Linked DNA regions of Homo sapiens. The protein of the gene in region 1 purifies or fractionates together with the protein of each later gene. This does not show direct contact. Each region holds a gene or a part of one and is shown in the gene's direction. Other genes may lie near its edges.

Region 1 (5,845 bases):
GAAGAGGCAGCCTTGATGTGCCGTGTTTGTCAGGACTGGCCTTGGGAAAGGTGAAATAGGACATATTTTTGCCTTTTTTTCTGCAACTCTTTTCTCTTGACTTTTACTGAGGTGGTCCAAGCCCTGCCGTGTCACAGGACCCCTTATTTTCAGTTTCGGTGTTTAGGGACAGGTCTCTATGTCCTCCTACCAGGACACTGATCAGGTGGCAAGAACCCTGTGTCAAGAGGCAGGAAACCTAGGCTCTCGTTCTTTCCCACCAAAGAGCTGTGTCGTTTTAGCAAAGCAACTCAGTGGCCTCATCTATGAAATGGGCATAATAACATGTTCCCCCTTTAGGCAGAGGACTACACCAGATGATCTCTTAAGATACATGTTACCATTTCCTGCTAATCTATGAGTTCAGGGTGCCAATTAGCAAACCTGGGAGAGGAGGAAGCTGGAGGAAATCTCTTTACTTCTTTTATCTCCAAGAAAGATACACACTCTTTGAGTGGCTTCCTGCAGACAGTGCCTTACCTTTGCCAGTTCTGTGTGTAGGAATTTGAACTTGGAGTTGGAAGAACCATGCCAAAGCAGAGAAAGAAGAGGTTTCTGGGCAGACGGAGGCTTTGAAACATCAATCGTGGCCGGTCGCGTTGGCTCACACCTGTCATCCCAGCACTTTGGGAGGCTGAGGCGGGGGGATCATTTGAGGTCAGGAGTTCAAGACCAGCCTGGCCAACATGGTCAAACCCCGTCTCTATTAAAAATACAAAAAAAAGTTAGCTGGGCGGTAGCGGCGCATGCTTGTAATCCCAGCTACTCGGGAGGCTGAGGCAGGAGAATCGCTTGAGCCTGGGAGGTGGAGGTTGCAGTGAGCCGAAATCACGCCACTGCACTCCAGTCCGGGCGACAGAGTGAGACTCTATCTCAAAGAAAAGAAAACAAAAGAAAAGAAACATCAGTCATATCACACCACATTTGTGGCTTCCTTTTTTTTTTTTTGAGGGTGGCTGTAAGTTTCAGTTTTATTGAAATCAGAGGACATTTTATTTGAAAGACCAAATGACCTTGTTGTCCACACTGAGTAAGATTTGCCACATCCCCTCGTTTGGCTGGCTCTTTCCTGGGTGAGATGTGTGCAGCAGGCTGTGTTTCTAGCTGCTCATCCAATTAGGCTGATTCTCTGGGTGGGATAACATTGAGGGAGATCAAAACCATTTGACTGTCTTCGGTTTACTCTCTTCTCTCTCTCTCTCTCTCCTCTTTTTTGTTTTGAGACAAGGTCACATTCTGTCATCCAGGCTGGAGTGCAGTGGTGCCATCATAGCTCACTGCACCCTCCAACTCCTGGGCTCAGTGGATCCTTCTGCATCAGCCTAGGTTTATTCTCTTGATTCGAGAGACCCTGTGGATCAGTCAGTGCTAAGTCCAAAAGTCCTTTAAAAAATATATGTATATTTTTGAGATAGGGTCTCACTCTGTCACCCAGGCTGGAGTGCAATGGTGCCATCCTGGCTCACTGCAGCCTCAGCCTCCCAAGCTCAGGTGATCCTCCCACCTCAGCCTGCCAAGTAGCTGGGACCACAGGTGTGTACCACCCAGCCCAGCTAATACTTTTTATTATTTTTGTAGAGATGGGGTCTCCCTATGTTGCCCAGGCTCTTTCAACATTTTAACAGGAACCTTGGGCTCATTTGTGCTTTGCGTAGGGAGGTCTGTCTTTTCTGGGTGAAGTTTTGTGTGTGGCTGGCATTCAGCTTCCTGTTTTTTAGCCATGAGACACCTCCCTGAAGTCTTGCTATGACCAAGACCCTGACAGCCACACCTTCTTTCTGCCTGTTAGAATCACTTTCTGTCGGGTTTCCCTTATAAGGTGATAGAGAACATAGACTTCATAACAAAATATCACTCTCACTGGGAAGGCTGAGGGGTTGGTCTTTTTGTGCCTGGTACTGTGCTCAGTGGGGACTTGGGGACATGCTTCGCATTTAAGGTATAGGTTGTTTTAGGCATGGGCAGTAGGCGCTTTCAGCACAGGCTCCCTGCTGGTCACTCTTTGCTGTAGTTTCCTGCTCCATCCATGGGGTCGGAGGTCTTACCTCCTGACGTTAGAGTCATTTGCAGCAGGTGGGAGTGAAAGTGGGCCGGGTGCCAGGTCTTCTTTACCTGAACCTCTCCTGTCTTCCTGGCACATTAGGAATGTCCAAGCTTATTTCTATTGGTGAATGCTCCCACATGGGATGGATAATGGCCTGTGGAACATTCTCTGAATGCTTTGTGTTCTTGGAAAACCAAGGACTGAAGAGCGTTGGGTTTGTTTAGGTTACCTGTTATAAATTCTTGGCTCACATTTCATGTGTGGACTTTCTTGGGTTTATTCCACATGGGGACAGCCCAGCAAGCCTTTGTGAACGCCCTTTCCTGGCCTGAGCCGAGTCACCTGTGGAAGTCAGCCGTGCAGGAGGGTGTGCTTGATAGGGGGAAGCACCCTGGGCAGGACCCCATGAGTTTCCTTCTTACCAGGAAAGTGTCATTCGTCCCACTTTGTGATCTGAACTGGTATTATGAAACATGAAGCTTAAAGGCAACAAAGTATGTTAACAACAACAACAAAAAATACTTAACAAAAACAACACTGAGGCAGCAGCTGCTTCAACCCCAAAGGTGGAAAAGTTTCCCAGTATGCATTTTTAACACACATCACCATGTGGCAAGAAGCAGGAGGAAGGGAGAGAGTGGGGAGGAGGAGAAAGAGAAGGAGGGGACCTTTGTTTTGTTATCTCCTTGGGGTATTTGTGTGCGTGCACTTAAAAACTGCGTGCACTTAAAAACTGCTTCCTGATGGAATCCCAAAGAGATTTATATTTGGACTTTGGTTGTCTTGACAACAATTTAGAAATTCCTACCACTTCCTCAATAGCTGAGTGATCAGTTAAAAGAGCCGATGGCTTCCCTGCTTCTGGTAAGGAGCTTGTTGAAGCATCTTGTGATCTTTGTTGGAATGTATATGGTGGCTCATTAAAGAGCAGTCAAATACCTGGGATTTGGTGAGACATCTGGGTAATGGGTACTTCACCTATGTCCAGGGCCTTCGCATGGAAGGCCTCTTGTCTCCCCAGGGACACTAGGACGCAAGAGTAGAACAGATTTATACTCACAGTAAGGCAGATCATCAGAACTGTGCAACCTCACATGAGTTGCTATGAGCACTGTATGACAGAGTATCCAATAAGGTGATAAGAATTTGTTAGTGTTATTGTGGAAGGAAGTAATGCATAGGATAGTGGGTTGGGCTAGGTAATGATCACATTTGCTTTCCAAGTCTGAGATTCTAGTAACTTACTATTTTTTCTCCCGAGACTGGCATTTCTTGGGGAAGGGGGATGGTGGGGAGGGTTGAGTGGCTAGCCACAGCATTTATTTCTTGGCACAACTGATTCCTCTACTAAATTGAACCATTTGTGGAAAGTATGTTCAGCATTGGTGACTCTGGGTACGTTCTATGTTACACGAGAATAAATATGATATAGTGGGCTATCTTCCCAGCAGTGCCTGGCATATGGTAACACTGTGTCTTATGCACCCATCCCAGGCTGATGGAATCCATCAGGGTCCCTTTGTTCCTCCTTTGTTCAGGGTCAGCATTGCTGCTTTCATCCTCCCTCAGCTTTCAGAGCTCAGTGCATCTCTGGAGTGTGTATCAGAATCATTTGAGGAGCATTTTCAAGCTTCTCATGGTCCCTTCCCCCATCCCTTATGTCTTAATTTGAGCTGCTGTCACAAAAATACCATAGGCTGGAGGGCTTAAACAATAGACATTTAATTCTCACAGTTCTGGAGGTTGGGAAGTCTAAGACCAAGGCGCTGGCAGATCTAGTGCCTGGTGAGGGCTCGATTTCTGGTTTGCAGACAGCTGCCTTCTTGCTGTAACTTCACATGACTGAGAGAGTGCTCGGTCTCTTTCTCTTCTTATAAGGACGCCAACCCCATTCATGAAGGCTCTACCCTCACAACCTAAGCACCTCCCAAAGGCCCACCTCCTAATATCCTCACATTGGAGGTTAGGCTTCAAAATGGGAATTTTGTTGGAGGGACACAAATATTAATTCCATAGTACCTTGTCAATAGTGTTCAGGCATGTGGCCTCTACTTTTGCCCTGGCCCAATGACACTGTTTTAGTGAGTGTGATATATCCTTTAGGTCTGCTCTAAGGCCACAGCCATGAGAAAATAGGAAACTTTACATTTTAAGATGCTAGGACAGTGGTCCCCAACCTTTTTGGCACTAGGGATCAGTTTTGTGGAAGACGATTTTTCCACAGATGGGAGCAGGAGGCGGGGGATGGTTTTAGGATGAAACTGTTCCACGTCAGATCATCAGGCATTAGTTAGATTCTCATGAGGAGCATGCAACTTAGATCCCTCACATGCGCAGTTCACAACAGGGTTTGCACTCCTGTGAGAATCTAATGTCACCATTGATTTGACAGGAGGCAGAGCTCAGCTGGTAATGCTCACTCACTGTTCACCTCCTGCTGTGCAACCTGGTTCCTAACAAGCCATGGGTCAGTACCGCCCCAGGGGTTGGGGACCTCTGTGCTAGAACGCAAAAGCTTTTGAGTTCACTAATTGGAAAAGACCTTTAAAATTTAATTAAGCCTGGTAGATAACGCTTATTTGGTGTTTGCATGCCTGTGCAGATTTTACACTTTCATTTATCTTAGTTTTTATCACTTATGACATGTGTTTGAAAATGGAATAGGTATTCATTCATTCAGCCATTCACCATTTGTGGAGTGTTTCTTTTATGCTGGGAGCTGTGGGTGGCTGCATGTAGACAGGATGGCAGTGATTGTTGCCTTCCCAAAGACACGAACACACCAGCAGTGAGCTCTGTGGCATTGACTGGATTCTTATTATGGTGCTTACCATGGCCCACCATGCGGAACAGAAGTAGTGTGTTGTGATGATGAGAAATACTGACTGTCATCCCGCTTAGTAGACTTGACGGCATGGGAGGGACAGAAAGTTCTTGCTCCAGGTCTGTCTTGGGTACCTGCTGTCGCACAGTGCTGTGCTAACTCTGCTAGAGACAGAAAGTAGGTCAGGCAGGGATCTGGTCCCTGCCTGGGATGGAGAGGCTTCTGGTTGGTTCCTGTGCCACACGCACAGGAACACGGCCCTTGCTGATGGGTGTGAGGCAGGAGGTGTTGCATGTATAGTGGGATATGGTGGGAGTCAAATACAGCGGGGGCTGTGAAGTGGGGAGTTGGGAAGGTTTCTTGGAGTAGGAAGGATTTGAACAGTGCCTAAAGGGACAGGGAAGGAAAGGTGGGTGTGCACTCCAGGCCCTGGCAGGGGGCTTGGATCTCACTGTATTTTCTGGCACAGTCCCTCCCCTCCCAGCCTGCCCACTCTTCCATTGACACCCCCTACTCCCTGTCTCTCTAGCACTGGGTCTTTTATTTTTAATTCCCTTTGCCCCCTTTTTTTTTTTTTGAAAAATTTAAAACTTACACAGCAGTTGAAAGGACTATGAATGTCCCCTAGATTCAGCAGGAGTAACATTTTGTCACTTGTCCTTTGTCTCTCTCTCTCTCTTTTTTTTTTTTTTTTTTTGACATGGAGTCTCGCTCTGTCAACCAGCCTGGGGTGCAGTGGCACAATCTCGGCTCACTGCAACCTCCACCTCCTGGGTTCAAGCGATTCTCTTGCCTCAGTCTCCTGAGTAGCTGAAATCACAAGTGTGCAACACCATGCCCAGCTAATTTTTGTATTTTTTTTAGTAGAGATGGCGTTTCACCACGTTGGCCGGCTGGTCTCGAACTCCTGGCCTCAAGCAATCTGCCTGCCTTGACCT
Region 2 (5,159 bases), on another chromosome or scaffold:
CCACCCCTGGCAGTGGCCTGGCGCCTGGTTTATAATACAAAGTGGATTGGGCCCTTTGCAATGCTTTGCAAGTGGCCAGAGTAAGACAGTGGGGGGTATTATAATGTTCTATAAGAGGATGATTGTCCCCTTGCACAAGGAAGACTGGGATTCATTATTTTGGAAATACAGGGGGTTGGGGAGTAGGATGTAAAATAGGTGTGACCTGTATATTCTTTTCTAGGCCTTTCCCCCATGGAGTGCAAGAACCGACTTGAGAAATCTTTTGTTCTTTTTTTTAGTTGCTACATAATAATTTTACATATTTATGAGGTACAGTGTGATGTTTCAATACATGTATACAGTGCATAATGATAAAATCAGGGTAATTAGCATATTCATCACCTCAAACATTTATCATTATCTGCATCGGGAACATTCAAAATCCATTTCTACTAAGTGGGAGAGTGTAAAATCCCAGGGAGGGTGGGATCGACTGTCTCCCACTCTGTTTGAACTTACTTCCCAGCTTCACCATTTCCACAGCGGTATAATCCTGCATTGTGGTGGTCTGCCTTCTTTCAGGTGGAGGCAAGTCTTGTAGGGCTACCCTCTGTGGGTGTGGTTGGTCTTCTTTTATCTTGGTAGTGACCATCAGACATGCTGAGAGGATGGGAACCTCTATGGACTCATCCCAGTCCTCATCCTCCCTGCCACTAGATCTCTTCACGGGGTCCCAGGACTTAGGGTTCCAGGACAATTTAGTCATGATAGTCCTAACTCCATGTGGCAGTCAGTGACCCTTCAAACAGGCTATGCAACAAACCAGTGTCTCCATTTTGTCATCCTGTTCCCACAGGTGGGACAGAAATTAGCCTGAGCTAATATCTCCCTAGTTGCAGCTCATCTTGTAAGTGGTACACCCTTGCCTGTGCCACAAGCTCAACCTTGGGGGCTGCTCTAAGCACAGTCAGGACTGGCCGGCCAACTGCAGCTGCCACAGCTTGGGCATTTGACTTTCCCTTAGTTGGATCCACCCCCTGCAGCAGTTCTTCCAGAACTTTTGGCATTTTGGGGGTATCCCCATACTCACCTGGTGGGCCCCACCCATCAAGGATAGTGGCTATTGGGCCCCACATACATGTGGACAACCAGCCCAGGATTTCCACCGTGGATTCTCCCCTGATCCCATTGTCTTGGCACTCGTGGAATTTTCTCCAACCTCCTGCTGGGCTAATTGTTGTGCTAGACCCCTATTGATTTCAGTACGGATGGCACTGTGTCTGAGAGGTGGAAGAAACCTGGAGCCGGTGAATGAGACATAGGATTTATTGAGGACTTATATGCTGGGTGGTCCAGGAGCAGTGGGCTGGACACGAAAACCAGTTGCTACTGTTTGTAAAAAGCATGCAGATTATATAGCATTTTCACTTAGCAACCTGCTCCTAACAACCTCCATTTAACCCGAATCAAAGGGCCTTGATCCTCTGTACAGCCTGCATTCCAAGAATGGGCCAGAGGTTCAGATGTTCAGATGTCCTTCCTAGAAAAGGAGCAGATCTCTGAGTTGGCCACTCCCACATTTCTTAGCTTGGAAGTGTGAACCCACATTCTACTTGGACCATAGGGTCATTGTTAGGGTATGCTTGAGTTATTGCTGTCAGGTGCATCTGCCATACGATACCATAAACCTTAAACCACTAAAATAAAAGAGATGTAGCTAGTCAATAAAAGGAAATAAAGTGGAATTATAAAAAAAGATTAATAAAAAATAAGGCAGAAAAAGAAGAAAACATATAGGACAAATAGAAAACAGCAAAATAATAGACACAAATCTAATCATACTAATAATCACATTAACTATAAATGGTCTGCATGCGCTAATCAAAAGGCAGAAGTTGGTTGGATTGGCTAAAAAAAAAAAATAAGACCCAATTTTTTACTGGAAAAGAAACACATTAAATATGAAGAACCATATACGTTTAAAGCAAAAGAATGGAAAAAGATATGTTAATAGATCTGGAGTGGGTATATTAGTATCAAAGTAGATTTCTGAGCAAAGGATATTACCAGAGATAAAGAATGTTATATCCTAATGATAAAGTGGTCAGTTCGTCAAGAGAATGTAAGTTCTAAACATTTCTGCACTTAACAGTGCTTCAAACATATTAAGCAAAAACTAATAGAGCTGCAAGAAGAAATACACAAATTCACAATTACGTTTGCAGTTTTCAGTACCTTTTAATAATTTTTAGAATAATTAGGCAATAAATCAGCAGGGATATAGTAGACTTGAATAATATTATCAATCAACTTGATCCCATTATTTATAGAACACTCTACCCAACAGCTATATACTACATATTTTTTTCAGTGTACGTGAAACATTTTCCAAGATAGACTAAGCTGGCTGTAAAGCAAGTGTCAAATTCAAAGGATTCCGATCATTCAGAGTATGTTCTCTGATCACAATGGAATTGATAGAAATCAGTATCAAAATATCCTTAGAAACCCCCCTAAATATCAAGAATCTAAATAATAGACTTTTTAGTAACCCTTGAATTAAAGAAGAAATCAAAAGGCAAATTAGGAAGTAGTTTGAATGGAATGAAAAGGAAAAGACAATATACCAGAATTTGTGGGATGCACCTAAAGCAAAACTTAAAGAAAAGTGTATAGTGCTATATTGGAAAGAAGAAACTTCTCAAATCACTGACCTCAGCTTCCACCTTAAGACACTAGAGAAAGAGGAGCAAGTAAAGCCCAAAGTAAACAGAAGAATGGAAATAATAAAAATCAGAGCAGAAATCATTGCAGTGAAATACAGAAAGCCAACAGAAACCAATGAAACCAAAAGCTGGTCCTTTGAGAATTTCAGTAAAATTGACACACCTTTAATCAAAATGATCAGAAAAAAAGAAAACACACATTACTAATGTCAGAAATGAGAAAGGTGACATCATTACAGATTCTGCAGATATTAAAAGGATAATAGAATATTAAGAGCAACTTTTTGCCAATAAACTTGACAATATAGATGAAATGGATGAAGTCCTTAAAAGACACAAATTACAAAAGCTGACTCATGAAGATAGAGATAACTGGAATAATCTTATTTCTATGAAAGAAATTGCTATTAGAAACCTTCCAAATGGCTTTCGTTTTGTTTCTTTTCTTTCTTTTCTTTTCTTTTTTTTTTTGGGGGGGGGATGGAGTCTTGGTCTGTTGCCTAGGCTGGGGCGCAGTGGTGCAATCTCAGCTTACTGCAACCTCCACCTCCCAGGTTCAAGTGATTCTCCTGCCTCAGCCTCCCAAGTAGCTGGGACTGCAGGTGCGCGCCACCATGCCTGGCTAATTTTTGTATTTTTTTTTAGTAGAGATGGGGTTTCACCATGTTGGTCAGGCTGGTCTTGAACTCCTGACCTCGTAATCCACTGCCTTGGCCTCCCAAAGCATTGGGATTACAGGCATGAGCCACCGCGCCTGGTCCCCAGATGATTTTCTTGGTGAAACATTTCACCAAACATTTAAGAAATAAATGCCAATTCTTCAAGAACTCCTATTGAAAATTGATGAAGAGGGAATATTTCCCAATTCTTTCTGTGAGGCCTGTATTACCATGATGCCAAAATCAGACAAAGACGTCACAAGAGAAAAGAATTATACATCAATGTCTCTCATGAACATAGATACCTAAATTCTCAGAAAACTTTAGCAAATTGAATCCAACAATATATTAAAAGGATAATATGTAATAATCACAACCAATTTATATATCCTTTGGTATACAAAAAGGATAATGTATAATAATCACAATATGTGAGATTTATCCCAGAAGAGCATAGTTGGTTTAATATTTGAAAATCGATGTAGTTTATATCACTAAAGTAAAAAAAAAAAAAAAAGGAAAACCATGTGATTGTCTCAGTGGAAGCAGGAAAAGCATTTGTCAAACTCTAGCATACATTCCTGATTTTTTTTAAAAAAAGTCCTCAAACTCAAGAGACATGGAGAGTTAGAGGGAAGGGAATTTGGAGTCAGGGAGGCCAGGGAGGACATTATTAACACATTGAGTGACACTGGAGATTGGAGTAAAGGCAGTGGCAATGGGAGTGGAGGGGAGGAAAAGAACCTGAGTGACAAATTTCAGAGGTAGAATTGGTAGGACTTGGTGACTAACTAGCTATTGAAGGTTAGAGGAAAGAGTCGAAAATAAAGATTTAAAAGCATGAGTGTTCAGGTGGAGGGGACTCTGACACCTTAGAGAACATAGAAGGCAAGATGTCTGCATATGAAGTGGATTAGTCCCGAGAGTATAGAAGGGGGTGTAAGTAAGATAATTAGTTCAGTTTTGAATGATCTGTGGGGAGATTTGTGGAGATGCCCCATAAACAACTGGAACCCGTGAAAAGAGACCTCATTATTCTGTCCTATGTGACACCTGTGTGTATCTAGCCAAAGAACCAGCTAGTCGGCAGCCTTGGTTCTAGTTTTGATTCAACGTGAGAATTTGTTAATATCTCTCCAAATTTTAGGCTGTTTGTGAAAACTTGGGGCATGAAATAATTAGATCCCCAGTTTCTAGAGGTTAGTCTTTTTTTTTTTAAAGATAGAATCTTGCTCTGTCACCCAGGCTGGAGTGCAGTGGCACGATCTCGGGTCACTACAACCTCCGCCTTCTGGGTTTAAGTGATTCTTCTGCCTCAGCCTCCCCAGTAACTGGGATTACAGGTGCCCACCATCATGCCGGGCCAGTTTTTTTGTTTGTTTGTTTTTTGGTATTTTCAGTAGAGACGGGGTTTCGCCATGTTGGCCAGGCTGGTCTCACTCTCGTGACCTCCAGTGATCTCCCTGCCTCAGCCTCCCAAAGTGCTGGGATTACAGGCATGAGTCACTGCGCCTGGTCTAGGGCTTAGTCTTTTAGAGCAGAAGGGAAATGAGGACTTCAGGTTGCTAAAGGCCATGCTGTGGCCTGCTAGGCCTGGCTGAGGATCAGTTGGGCAGCAGTGGAGTCATGAGTGTTTGTTAGGAGGAGAAAGATGAAACTGATGCTGGAAAAGATGGGCATTTCTGGGGAAGGGTTGATGATAAGCTGCTGCACTACTTAGCTCTCATTTTCTCCACAGTGGCTGTAAACCTAGCTGAAGACACAGCTCATCCCAAACTCGTCTTCTCCCAGG
Region 3 (5,845 bases), on another chromosome or scaffold:
TAAAAGCAAGGTTCTGGCCTGTTTGCCTTAATTAAGCCTACACAGTAATCCTGTCTTCCAGATGTGGTGCCTCGTAGAATTAGGGAAACTTGGATTCCTTGGAGTAAAAGATGAGAAAAATGAGCACTTTTCTTTAAGCCTTAATTGTAAGGAAAGTAGAGGGACCCTCCTCTGTTTTCCTCTTGCTGCTTCTCTAGCAGAATGAGAGAAGAGCAGAGAGCCACAGTGGCCAAAAGAGGAAACCATAGGAAAAGGACTTTCCGGACTTCTGTCTTTATAGAGAGTTGTATTAACTGGTTTTGAGTTTATCCGATGATGACAGCAGGAATAGATGAGCTCATCAGTCTGATTTCCAGCATTAAATGAGTTATATTAAATTGTTTAAATGTATACAGTCCTAAACTAGGTAACACTCCATAGTCTTGATGCTTAGAACTCATAACTCAGAGTCAGAAAGTCAAATCAGAAAGCAGTTGTACAAATAAACCCAAACAGCCTGCAAAACTTAAATTGAAAACATTCAGTTACATTGACAAGAGATTTTGCTGAAACCAAAGTGCTGCTCAGGGCAAGAAGGGAGGGGGTTTTGGTCAGACTGCTATCACATACCCAACTCTACTCAACTGCCCCTCTGCATTTTCTATTTAAAATACTTTGAAACCTTTAATCGTGTAGCCTGCCTTGCCTGGTTAGTGTTGATTTGGCAAGAATGTATCATATTCATGTCTGCCTGTAACAGCAGTGGGCAGCTAGGTGCCAGTGAGATCATGGAGCAAACACAAGCCTGGGCACTGAAATTTATACTCACAACACAGATAATCCAGAATATGGATATTAATGTTTTTAATTACAAATGAAAACAAAAATATGTAAGTCTTATGGAAACTTCTTGGACCTTGTAGAATGTATCTTTGGCCCCATTTTGAGAAATACTGGCCTACTGCCATAAGAATTTGACTTTTGATGAGATTCGATGAGGAATTCATGCTGTACATTTGCTAAATCATCCAATAGGGGGAGACATTCTTCAGCTTCTTAGGTTTTTCATTAGTATGACTTCAGTCCCTTGAGGTCACAGATTTTCATCCATAGGATGGTTTGGGAAACTTCTGTTATCATTTAAGGACCTGCAGGAAGTAAGGGGGTACCTTTAAGGTTAATGTTGAGATGTAATGGAATGAAGTTTTCTTAATCCCAAACGACAGCAACAACAGGCAAGCTTCTGGCTTTTGAGTGGACTCTTCAGAGTGATCGAACTGGGTATACCAAATATTTGGAATTCCATAGAAAGCTGGATCTGCACATTATTGTATTATATATATATAATACTATATTATTATATAGATATTAGTTAGAAAATACTTTTGAAAAAAGAATACAAATAGCTTTCAAACCTAAATGTGCAGTTTCATAATAAAAGAAATGTGAATTGTATAATGAGGTAACATTTTTCTCTTGGCTCAGCAGTGGTCAGAAAATCTGAAAATATATTGTCGAAATTGGAAAAGCAGGAAATAAACTGCAGGAGTGAATTTGGAACAGCAGGCACACTCATGCATTGTTGATAGGAATTAAACTCATACACCCTCTTCAGAGGGCAGTTTAACAGTATTTCTCACATTTAAAGTTATATACTTTTTATGCAAGAGATTCTACTTTTTGGACTTTATCCTATAAATATACCCTATGGCATTGTTTTTAAAGAGAAAAAACTGAAAATCCAGTAACCATTTTTTAACTACTGTGTATAATCTAACGTAGAACAATGTCCAATATATTGTTAAATGAGAAAGCAAGTACTGTAGAATATATTGTTACTTGTGTATAAAAAAAATAAGTGGTAGTGGATATATACACATAGTAGATGCAGAGAATTTCTTCGGAAGGATACAGAAGGAACTGATGGCATTGGTTCACTCTAAGGGGAACTGAGGCACTCTGGGTGTGAAGAGGGGGAGGGACATTTTCATTGTATACATTAACTGGATATTCGTTTTCTATGTGCATATATTACCTTTTCAAAAAATAATTCACACTAAAACGTAACTTGCACACTAGAAAAACTGAGTTGCTGCTCTCCATTAGAATTGGAGCTAGAGGCAACGTGGTGATAAAAGTTTGTGGACTTTGAAACTGGACAGATTCTAGGTTTTAAAGTTAGGCCTGGCACTTACCAATTATATAATTTACTCTCTCCAGCCTGTGATATCATTTGAAGAGGAGGAGAATACCTGTTTCATGGCTTAAGATGACATGTGAAAGAATTTGTCAGTTAATGCTAGTGTCCTTTTTCTATACAAGGAAGTACTAGAACTTGGAAGACCTCTGTAGACCTCTGTATTAGAATAAATGTCAATGTGCTCTGTCACAACCCAAAGGAATATTGAGGAGTGACCTCTGACAAGTTCGACAGATACAGATAAAATAATATTTTTGTTGTGTACTACAAGGTAATTTATATTAAGAACACTCAGAAAATAAGTCCCACATACTGTAGTTTGTTTTTTTTAACAGAGAATAGAGAAAAGGAAGAAATAGGGAGAAAGAGTGATGTAAGCTACAGAGTAAGGCTTGAAGAGAGAACTGGAGACTTAATTCTGATTTCTGTATCAAATATGTGGAGAAACGTAGCCCCCCGTCTTGCTCCTGCGGTGAACTATCCCACAGCACTTGGAATCCAGTTGTTGGCGCTCTTTTGGTGTACATTCTTTCCTTATGTGGGTAGGCAAGTGCTCTTTCCATTTGCTATCTTAAGAATGTGTGTATAAAAAATAATACCCTCACAGACATATAGTGCGTGCTGGGGTATGTTTGGGAGGTGTCTCCAGTTTGGTATTTGTAGTCACATTCCTGTCTTTCTTTGTCTTGCCAAATAGCAGTCAAGCCTGCAATAAATTCCAAGGACTCTAAGTGCCAAATCTCACTTAAAATTGGATTTTATGGAAGTGTCTAACTAAAAAATCTGATGACTAATCTAAGTTAAAGTTAGAGCTGGGACCATTTTAGGACTTTGCTGGGAAAATGGATGCTGAGTTTACGATGACTCTCTGGTTAGGGGGGCAGCATTTATGCTCCCGAGGATTTGCTTTCCAGGTGATGGATTGATTTCAGATAGGATTATTCAGTGGAGGAGACAAAAATTTCCTTGGGGAGAAAAATGTTTCTTTTCCTGTTTCTGTTTGAATTACTAATATTAAAACTAAATATTGTTCAAATTTATAGATTATTTAAACTAATGATTAGTTTTCTGATTTCTTCTCATAAAGCGTGGTAAGCAGAATTTTGGCAGTAATGAATGACAACCAGTTCTTTCTAAAACATGAATAAACCCAAGAACTTACTAAAGAAAGCAGTTTTTCACCAACACTTAATTCCATGTGATGTCTGTTTGTAACATGTTTAGGGTCTGAGGAGATATCTTACTCAAAAATGAAGGTATTTTTCAACAAGCATTGCTATTCCACAAACATTGACTGCTTTATGAAAGCCTGCAGCAGCTATTTCTTAGAAGGTGAATTCTTTTCTCAGAGTGTGTGGGTAAATATGTTAAGGATTAAACCAAAAGAATTTCAGGTTCTAGCTGATGTGACAAGCAATAACCAGTGCAGATGTTTAGGACACAAAAGATTTTAGACAATTTTTGTTAGGAATTTGCTATGATAGACTTAAGCCTATTCCATAAATAATAGATGCTGTAAAGGTTATTTAAGCATTAATGTAAAGTTCTCTTATCTTGCAGCATACATTCAGTAAAATAAGCAGCTTATTTTGGTAATCTTTGTCACACTCTCCCCCCTTTTCTCTGCAGGTGGATCACACAATAATAATGTACTTGATTGGACCAGATGGTGAGTTTCTAGATTATTTTGGCCAGAACAAGAGGAAGGGAGAAATAGCTGCTTCAATTGCCACACACATGAGGCCATACAGAAAAAAGAGCTAGCCAAAGCAGTGTTGCTGGATGCAGTATTCTCTTGCTAAGAGGAAGGAAACTGTCTCGCATAGGAGCCTATATAAATATAAACATATATACGTGCACTCTACAGAATGGCCTTCATACCATGAGAACATTTCTGTTTTGGATGGGGATGTTACCCTTGCGTTCAACCAAAATTGATTCTTGGAACTGTAAAGATTACAACCCAAAGTCTCCCAGGAAGCTGTGGGGAGACCAGAGGATCAAGCTGAAGTGAAGCCAGTGAAGAGCCCACCTGTGGAAGGACATGGCGGGGCGAGGCACAGCCAGTGCATTCCTGCCTGCGAACAGGCCCTCCCAGCAGCTTTGCCGCCTCTCCATCGTCTTGGGCCCTTGCTCAAATAGCTGTGGGACTGAATTTCACAGAAAAGAATATAATTTCCATAGTGCTCTTGCTTGCCTCTTCTTGAGTTCTTTGCTCTTCTGAGTTCTTGGTGGCTAATAACAGTCAGATTAGGGTCTCTGCCATTCAGAGTTGATGCTTGAAAACTTTAGTTTTCCTTATTAATGAATATCACTATCAGATTTGACTAATGAAGAGGAAATCTATTGTTTGGGGGAAAAAAAACATCAGTTTGATTTCTCTAGGGGTTCTTTTATGTGATTTTTAGCTAAGTGGTGTGCCAGGTTTTCAGTGACATACCAAATGGAAATAAGAGGATATTGATCACGAGTGTGATGCTGAGTACCTTTCTGCATATACTGGATTGTACTTTGTGTAAAGTAAACATACTCAGTTTTGCTGTTCAGACAAGCGTGATCTTTTTCATGGGTGATGAGTGGGTACATAGATGGCTGCACACAGTTCTCAGGAAAGAGACCCACAGGCTCCAGCGGGCAGGTGGGTGGGACGCTTGCTGAAGTGCAGTTCCCCAGACCCAGAGCTGAATTCACTGAATCTGCAGTATGATGCAGAGACCTGCTTCCATGACAGATACCCCAGGTGACTCGGATGCTGGCGGACTGGGACCATCCCTTAAGAAAGTGTTTTTTGGGGAAATAACTTGCCTGGCACAATGGCTAATGCCTATAATCCCAAAACTTTGGGAGGCCAGGGCCTGAGGATTGCTAGAGGTTAGGTATTCAAGACAAGCCTGGGCAACATAGTGAGACCCCCCCCCCCCGCCCCCATCTCTACAGAAGATTTTTTTGGCATGGTGGCACATGCCTGTAGTCCTGGCTACTCAGGAGACTGAAATGGAGTATCACTTGAGCCCAGGAATTCAAGGCTTCAGTGAGCTATAATCACACCACTGCATTCCAGCCTGGGCAACAGAGTGAGACCCTCTAGATATATCTATGTAGAGATACAGAAATTAAAATGAATTTAAAAATAAATAAATTTGACCCTTCTTTTGGTGTGTCAGCCATTGAAGAAAATGATTATTGAGTGATAGAATGAATCTTGGCTTTTGTTTCTAAATTTAACTGCCCTAGAATCCTGGGTTTGGCCTTTTTCTGCCAGAAGCTGCTGCCCTAGGGGCAAAGTTCTCCAAAAGTTTTTCAGTAAATCCTAAGATGCAACAAATATAATGCCTAGATAGACAACAGATTCTTTTTACATGATATGTTTCTACACGCACATGATAGAGGTCTTTTGGTTTTTAAATTCTCAATACTTAAACCTAAATATATCAAAGTAAAAGTATGTGAAAAAAAACTATGCTAGTTATAGGTTGAATAATGTCCCCCAAAATTTATACATTGAAGCCCTAATCTCAGTACTTCAGAATGTGACTGTAATTGGAGATAGGGTCTTTAGAGAGATAGTTAAATTAAAATGAGGCTGCTAGGTTGGCCCTAATTCTATATGACTGGTGTTCTTAAAATAATAGATTAGCTGGGCACAGTGGCTTATGCCTGTAATCC
Region 4 (5,845 bases), on another chromosome or scaffold:
ACGGGAGAATGTGTCAGACTTAACTCTGGGACCTGGAAACTCTCCCATCACACGAATGAATCCCGCATCGGGAGCGCTGAGCCCTCTTCCCCGGCCTAATGGAACTGCCAACACCACTAAGAATCTGGTGGTGACTGCAGAGATGTGCTGCTACTGCTTCGACGTACTCTACTGTCACCTCTATGGCTTCCCACAGCCACGACTTCCTAGATTCACCAATGACCCCTAGTGAGTAAATCATGTGCTGGGGGCACTGAGGAAGGCATGGTGACATCTTTCTGGGGTGATTCTCTTGAGAGGGTCTGCTACTTGGAAGTCTTTATTATCATTTGAGGAAAGGGTAATGGGAAGAGAATGATAAGAAATGTCCAGAGAATATTTAAAACATTCAGTGGATTCAGTAATGGAAGGGAGCAGTTCACATTTGGAGGAGGCTGTAGGCTTGTTGTTAAAGTAATGTTCTGGAAATCAAGTGAGTTCATTCTTGGCTCTTCTGTTGGTTCACATGGCAGTGGGTATGGCATTTAACCTCTCAAGTGGGGAAGTCACGCCATACCATTGGGGACACCCATAGTGTTGAAGTCCAGGTGAGTTGGAAGTCTGAGGGCCAGGCTGGAGACTAGGAGCTCTCATTCACTGGGATCTGCGATTTGGTTAACAGGGGTCCCCTCACTTTGTTCATGAGAAATCCCTTGGTAAACCTGTAGGGCCACTCACATCCCATCAAGAAGTCAGAATCTGCTTCAGTATTTTTAGTTCAAGATTCTTTGTTGCTTGTCCCAAGCCCTCTACTGGTCTCAGTGACTTAAATAAGCAATATGTATAAAGTAAACTGAAGAATTCCATGCTAGCATTTTCTTCTTCCTCAGAATTGGAAGCCGCTCTGAGCTGGCTTTGAAGAGCATTGCTGTTTTTTTATTTTTGTTTTGGGGGTATGCTTTTGGAGTGTTCATTGATATGAGATTATTCATTCCTCAGTTGTTGATTGCCATACGGAGACTACAAAACCTTGGCTGGGGCATGGAGAGGGTGTGAAGAAAAGGAGCCTCTTCCCTTGGGAGGCCTGTCAGGTTGGCAAATCACACACGCACAGAGCTAAGGGGAAGTTGTTCTCTGTGAGTGTGTCAGAGGAGAGGAAACCTGGAGGGAAGTGTGCTCGGTTTTTTGGGAACCGTCACCCTGGGGTAACATGGTTAGAAAACACCTGACTGAGCAGGTGGAGATCCCAAGCCTGAGTGAGATCCAGGGTGCCCCACGTAAGAGAGAGATGCAGTTTGGAAGAACAGGTGATGATGTGGGTGTTTAGGGAAGGTTTAGACTGTTGTATTCAAGGCTTTGCATTTCCATCCTGCAGGCAATGGAGGCCTTGTCTTGAAGGATTTTTCAGTAGGCTTTGGGGCTGCAGCTTTGGCTGGTGCTGTGCAGGTGCTTTATTGGGAGGAAAAGATGGCTAGATGGGACAGCTGCTGTGGGGACCTTTGTGACAGTGATCAAAGCAGATAACTTTGAAAACTTAAGTTGCCTCTAGAAATGATTAACTCAATCTAAGAGGTAAGGACATTAGAGTGTGGAGGGATTTCAGGAAGAGGGAACAGGCCTTGAAACCTCTTGCTAAAAAATCTGTCACTGTCAATCTGATATAGCCTTAATGAAGTGTGACTTTGGCCTAGAAACAGAAAATGGCAACTCAGCTAATAAAAAGGTTCCTTGGCTGGGCGCGGTGGCTCATGCCTGTAATCTGTAATCTCTCAGCACTTCGGGAGGCTGAGGTGGGAGGATCGCTTGAGCCCAGGAGTTCAAGATTAGCCTGGGCAACATAGTGAGGCCCCCCTCTATTTTTTTTTAATCTTTTTTTTTTTTTTTCTTTTTGAGACAGAGTCTCAGTCTTGTCGAGGCTGGAGTGCAGTGGCACAATCTCGGTTCACTGCAACCTCTGCCTTTCAGGATCAAGTGATTCTCCCACCTCAGCCTCCCGAGTAGCTGAGATTACAGGAGCCTGCCACCACGCCCAGCCAATTTTTATATTTCTAGTAGAGGCGGGGTTTCGCCATGATGACCAGGCTGGTCTAGAACTCCTTACCTCAAGTGATCCGCCCACCTTGGCCTCCCAAAGTGCTGGGATTACAGGCATGAGCCACTGCACCCGGCCTTTTTAAATCTTTTTTTAAAAATTAAAAAATGTTTTTTGAGGGAACTTTTTTTTCTGAAAATTTGTGAGTGGAAATATTTGTAGTTGTCAGGGGCAGACATGATCATGGAAGCAACATGGGTTTGCAGATGAACGGGGCTGTGCAGGTGAGGCGTGTCATCATGAAAGACGGAGCGGGGGAGCATGGCTACCTGGATAAATAGACTTAGGGAAGAGGAAACTGGAGAATTCGAAGGAAAAGTTGAGTCTTGGGCAGAGAAAGAGGAAAGTAGCATGTAAATTTGGCGGCAAAGTGAATTAAAGCTGTCAGCATGGAACATGGGAACCACTACACGGAGCCTTTCCTTATGCTGCCTTGTAGGTTTCCCGTTTCCAGCCAGGGGCTGTGCCGTTTTCAGAAAGGCAGAGAGTCCTTCGGGTAGCTGGCAAGTCCAAAAACAGGGATTTTTGGCAATAACAGAAATGAATAGGGACAAAGCCAAAAGGTTTTGTTCTTATCCATGATTAATTTGGGGCTGGAGAATGTTTTGTGTTTTGCTTTTTTTAGTCCGCTCTTTGTGACGTGGAAGACAGGGCGGGACAAGCGGCTTCGTGGCTGCATTGGGACCTTCTCAGCCATGAATCTTCATTCAGGACTCAGGGAATACACGTTAACCAGGTAATGACACCAGACATTAAGAACTGTAGATAAATTGGCTAGAATCAGAAATAGCTGCCTGACTTTATTTCTTCTAAGTGATGTACGTTGAGCTTTCTCTTTTTGGTAATCAGGAAATGTAAGGGGCTTAATCTGGTGAGTCAGTTATCAGTTCAAGTACAGACAGTTAATAGCATCGAGTTGTTTTTAACATGTTAGTGTTGATGAACAATAGATACTCTCTGCATAGCTCAAGATTCATAAATATGTGGGCTCTATGGCACCTGATATTGGCTCCTGACTCCAGAGCAGCCTTACCTATGTTTTCTGTCCCCCTCCAGTGCACTTAAGGACAGCCGATTTCCCCCCCTGACCCGAGAGGAGCTGCCTAAACTTTTCTGCTCTGTCTCCCTCCTTACTAACTTTGAGGATGCCAGTGATTACCTGGACTGGGAGGTGAGAACAGCCGCATTTGGAACTCTGCATCTCTCGTTGCATTTGGGTTCGGGTTAGTACATGGCAATGTATCTCCTTCATTGAGAGAAAGGGTATAAGAATGTGAAGGCTGAGTTTGGAACCAATTGTGGGCAACATAGGTGACAGAAGAGGTGCTGCTATACCAGGAGTAGGCAGAAGTGTCAGTGGAAAGGCTCGCTTCTCCTGATTCTCCCTAGTCTGCTTGGTTTACATCCTTCTCCCATGTCTAATAAGAGATAATGGGGTAAAAGAAAATATTCCAGATCCTTCTTGGCAAGCCCTGGAGTAAAAGTTTTTGTTTGCTTGTTTTTTTTTTTGAGATGGAATTTCGTTCTTGTTCCCCAGGCTGGAGTGCAGTGACGTGATCTCGGCTTACTGCAACCTCTGCCTCCCGAGTTCAAGGGATTCTCCTGCCTCAGTGTCCCAAGTAGCTGGGATTACAGGTGCCCACCACCATGCCCAGCTATTTTTTTTTTTTTTGAGACAGAGTCTCGCTCTGTCGCCAGGCTGGAGTGCAGTGGTGCAATCTCAGCTCACTGCAACCTCCACCCCTGGGTTCAAGTGATTCTTCTGCCTCAGCTTCCTGAGTAGCTGGGACTACAGTCGCGTGCCACCACACCCAGCTAATTTTTGTATTTTTAGTAGAGATGGGGTTTCACCGTGTTAGCCAGGATGGTCTCAATCTCTTGACCTCGTGATCCACCTGCCTTGGACTCCCAAAGTGCTGGGATTATAGGCGTGAGCCACCATGCCCAGCCATTTGTATTTTTTTAGTAGAGACAGGGTTTCACCATGTTGGCCAGCCTGGTCTCAAACTCCTGACGGCCTTGGCCTCCCAAATTGTTGGGATTACAGGCATGAGCCACCGCGCCTGGCCAAATAAAAGTTTTTATTAGGAATCAGATGTGAAGGATCATGACCCCAGATAAAAACCTTGTGGCATGTTTATTTAATGGAATAGGGTCAAGGAACATATTCACAATTCCTGGATGAATTACTTAAAGAATGCATTTCTCCTACCTTCATATTCTCAGAGTTGGCTGCACATACTCTCGACCCTTCCCTAAAAGCAGAACTTTCTTTGGCCTCTATACCTCCTGAGATAGAATTAGTCATGAAATGCGAGAAGGTCTCCCTTTTCCAGGCCTGTGTTAAGCTGGTCAGGGAACAATGTTGATTTATATGTGGGGACTGAAGTTCCATTAGAGTAAGTAAATGCCATTTACTTGGTTGTACTTTTTTCTATAGGTAGGGGTCCATGGGATTCGAATTGAATTCATTAATGAAAAAGGTGTCAAACGCACAGCCACATATTTACCTGAGGTTGCTAAGGAACAAGGTGAGTTGGATGAATGGGATTTTAATGACAAGTATCATTCACAGTGGTGCCAGTTAAAGGGCAAGAAAGTGAAGTGTGTCATCTTGCAGCCCAACTGCAGCTGAGAATGAGGGCCTTTCTGCCTCTTAATACCTGTCAAATTCCTATAGAACCAAGGGTAAACTTCCAAAAAGGTTTAGGAGCTGGGAAAAGCAAAAGGGTAAATCGTTCACTTACTCGCCTGATATTTCAAACACTTCTTTTCAATGAATAGTTTTATTTCTTAGCCCCTTAAACTACAGTGGCAATTGTAGCAAAATACCACCAATCAACCTGACCATATTGTAGAATTCAGTAGGTACCGAACTTTGGATCACAAATCATTAAACAATATTATACATGGCAAAGGGTGTAAACATAGTCCCTACTGTTTTTTAAAGAACTCAGTAGTCGGCCAGGCGTGGTGGCTTACTCCTATAATCCCAGCATTTTGGGAGGCCAAGGTGGGCGGATCACAAGGTCAAGAGATTGAGACCATCCTGGCCAGCATGGTGAAACCCCGTCTCTACTAAAAATATAAAAATTAGCTGGGCATGGTGGTGCATGCCTGTAGACCCAGCTACTCAGGAGGCTGAGGCAGGAGAATCACTTGAACCCAGGAGGCAGAGGTTGCAGTGAGCCAAGATCGTGCCATTACACTCCAGCCTGGTGACAGAGCGAGCCTCCATCTCCAAAAAAAAAAAAACTCAGTAGCCTATAAGTTCTTCTGATGGGGACGTTAAAGGTAGGGTGGATCGAGCAGATTTTGTCTTTAAAAGAATATCTAGAAGGGTACCTTTACATGTTGCTTGTGCATTCTGTGATACGTAGTGCAGTTTTCCTTCTTTCTTGGAATTAGTCTGATTTTGAAAATAATATGTGAAACACAGTATTTGTTGGGTATGAGCCTAGAATAGAGAAAAAATACCCGGTGAAGTGTATATCATGAGCAAACATGGAAAACGATTGCCTGGTTGGTTTTTATTTTGCTTGTGCTTAAACTTTTTCAAGAGCAGTGTATATGTGGCATAATAGCAAACCTTTTAGCCACCTCTTTTAGGTCATAAACCTAACACACTCTGTACAAGGAGGCATACCATGTTTTGTAATGGGGAGGTGTAAATAATAACTTAAGTAAATAATTAAATTACTTTTGCCATTTGAAAGTTGGTTGGAAAAATAAAAACTTCGGAGCACCTAGCATAGTAATTTAGGGGATTTTCTT

What was found.
Region 2: the proteins of RAB31 (region 1) and TRIM4 purify together in Homo sapiens (affinity purification with mass spectrometry; 4 studies listed by BioGRID and IntAct, with this or other methods). This does not show direct contact.
Region 3: the proteins of RAB31 (region 1) and SCO1 purify together in Homo sapiens (co-immunoprecipitation; one large-scale study listed by IntAct). This does not show direct contact.
Region 4: the proteins of RAB31 (region 1) and AMMECR1L purify together in Homo sapiens (affinity purification with mass spectrometry; one large-scale study listed by BioGRID and IntAct). This does not show direct contact.

Annotation. Positions count from the first base shown.
Region 1 is NC_000018.10:9,709,944-9,715,788, forward strand, and holds part of RAB31 (ras-related protein Rab-31), read left to right. Parts: exon of another isoform or gene 1-50; intron 51-5,845. UniProt on the Homo sapiens protein: The small GTPases Rab are key regulators of intracellular membrane trafficking, from the formation of transport vesicles to their fusion with membranes.
Region 2 is NC_000007.14:99,892,693-99,897,851, reverse strand, and holds part of TRIM4 (E3 ubiquitin-protein ligase TRIM4), read left to right. Parts: intron 1-5,105; coding exon 5,106-5,159. UniProt on the Homo sapiens protein: E3 ubiquitin-protein ligase. Mediates 'Lys-63'-linked polyubiquitination of the innate immune receptor RIGI, this linkage doesn't lead to proteasomal degradation but seems to enhance IFN induction.
Region 3 is NC_000017.11:10,679,217-10,685,061, reverse strand, and holds part of SCO1 (protein SCO1 homolog, mitochondrial), read left to right. Parts: intron 1-3,808; coding exon 3,809-3,943; 3' UTR 3,944-5,845. UniProt on the Homo sapiens protein: Copper metallochaperone essential for the maturation of cytochrome c oxidase subunit II (MT-CO2/COX2). Not required for the synthesis of MT-CO2/COX2 but plays a crucial role in stabilizing MT-CO2/COX2 during its subsequent maturation.
Region 4 is NC_000002.12:127,868,211-127,874,055, reverse strand, and holds part of AMMECR1L (AMMECR1-like protein), read left to right. Parts: coding exon 1-228; intron 229-2,696; coding exon 2,697-2,807; intron 2,808-3,127; coding exon 3,128-3,242; coding exon of another isoform or gene 3,243-3,294; intron 3,295-4,511; coding exon 4,512-4,602; intron 4,603-5,845.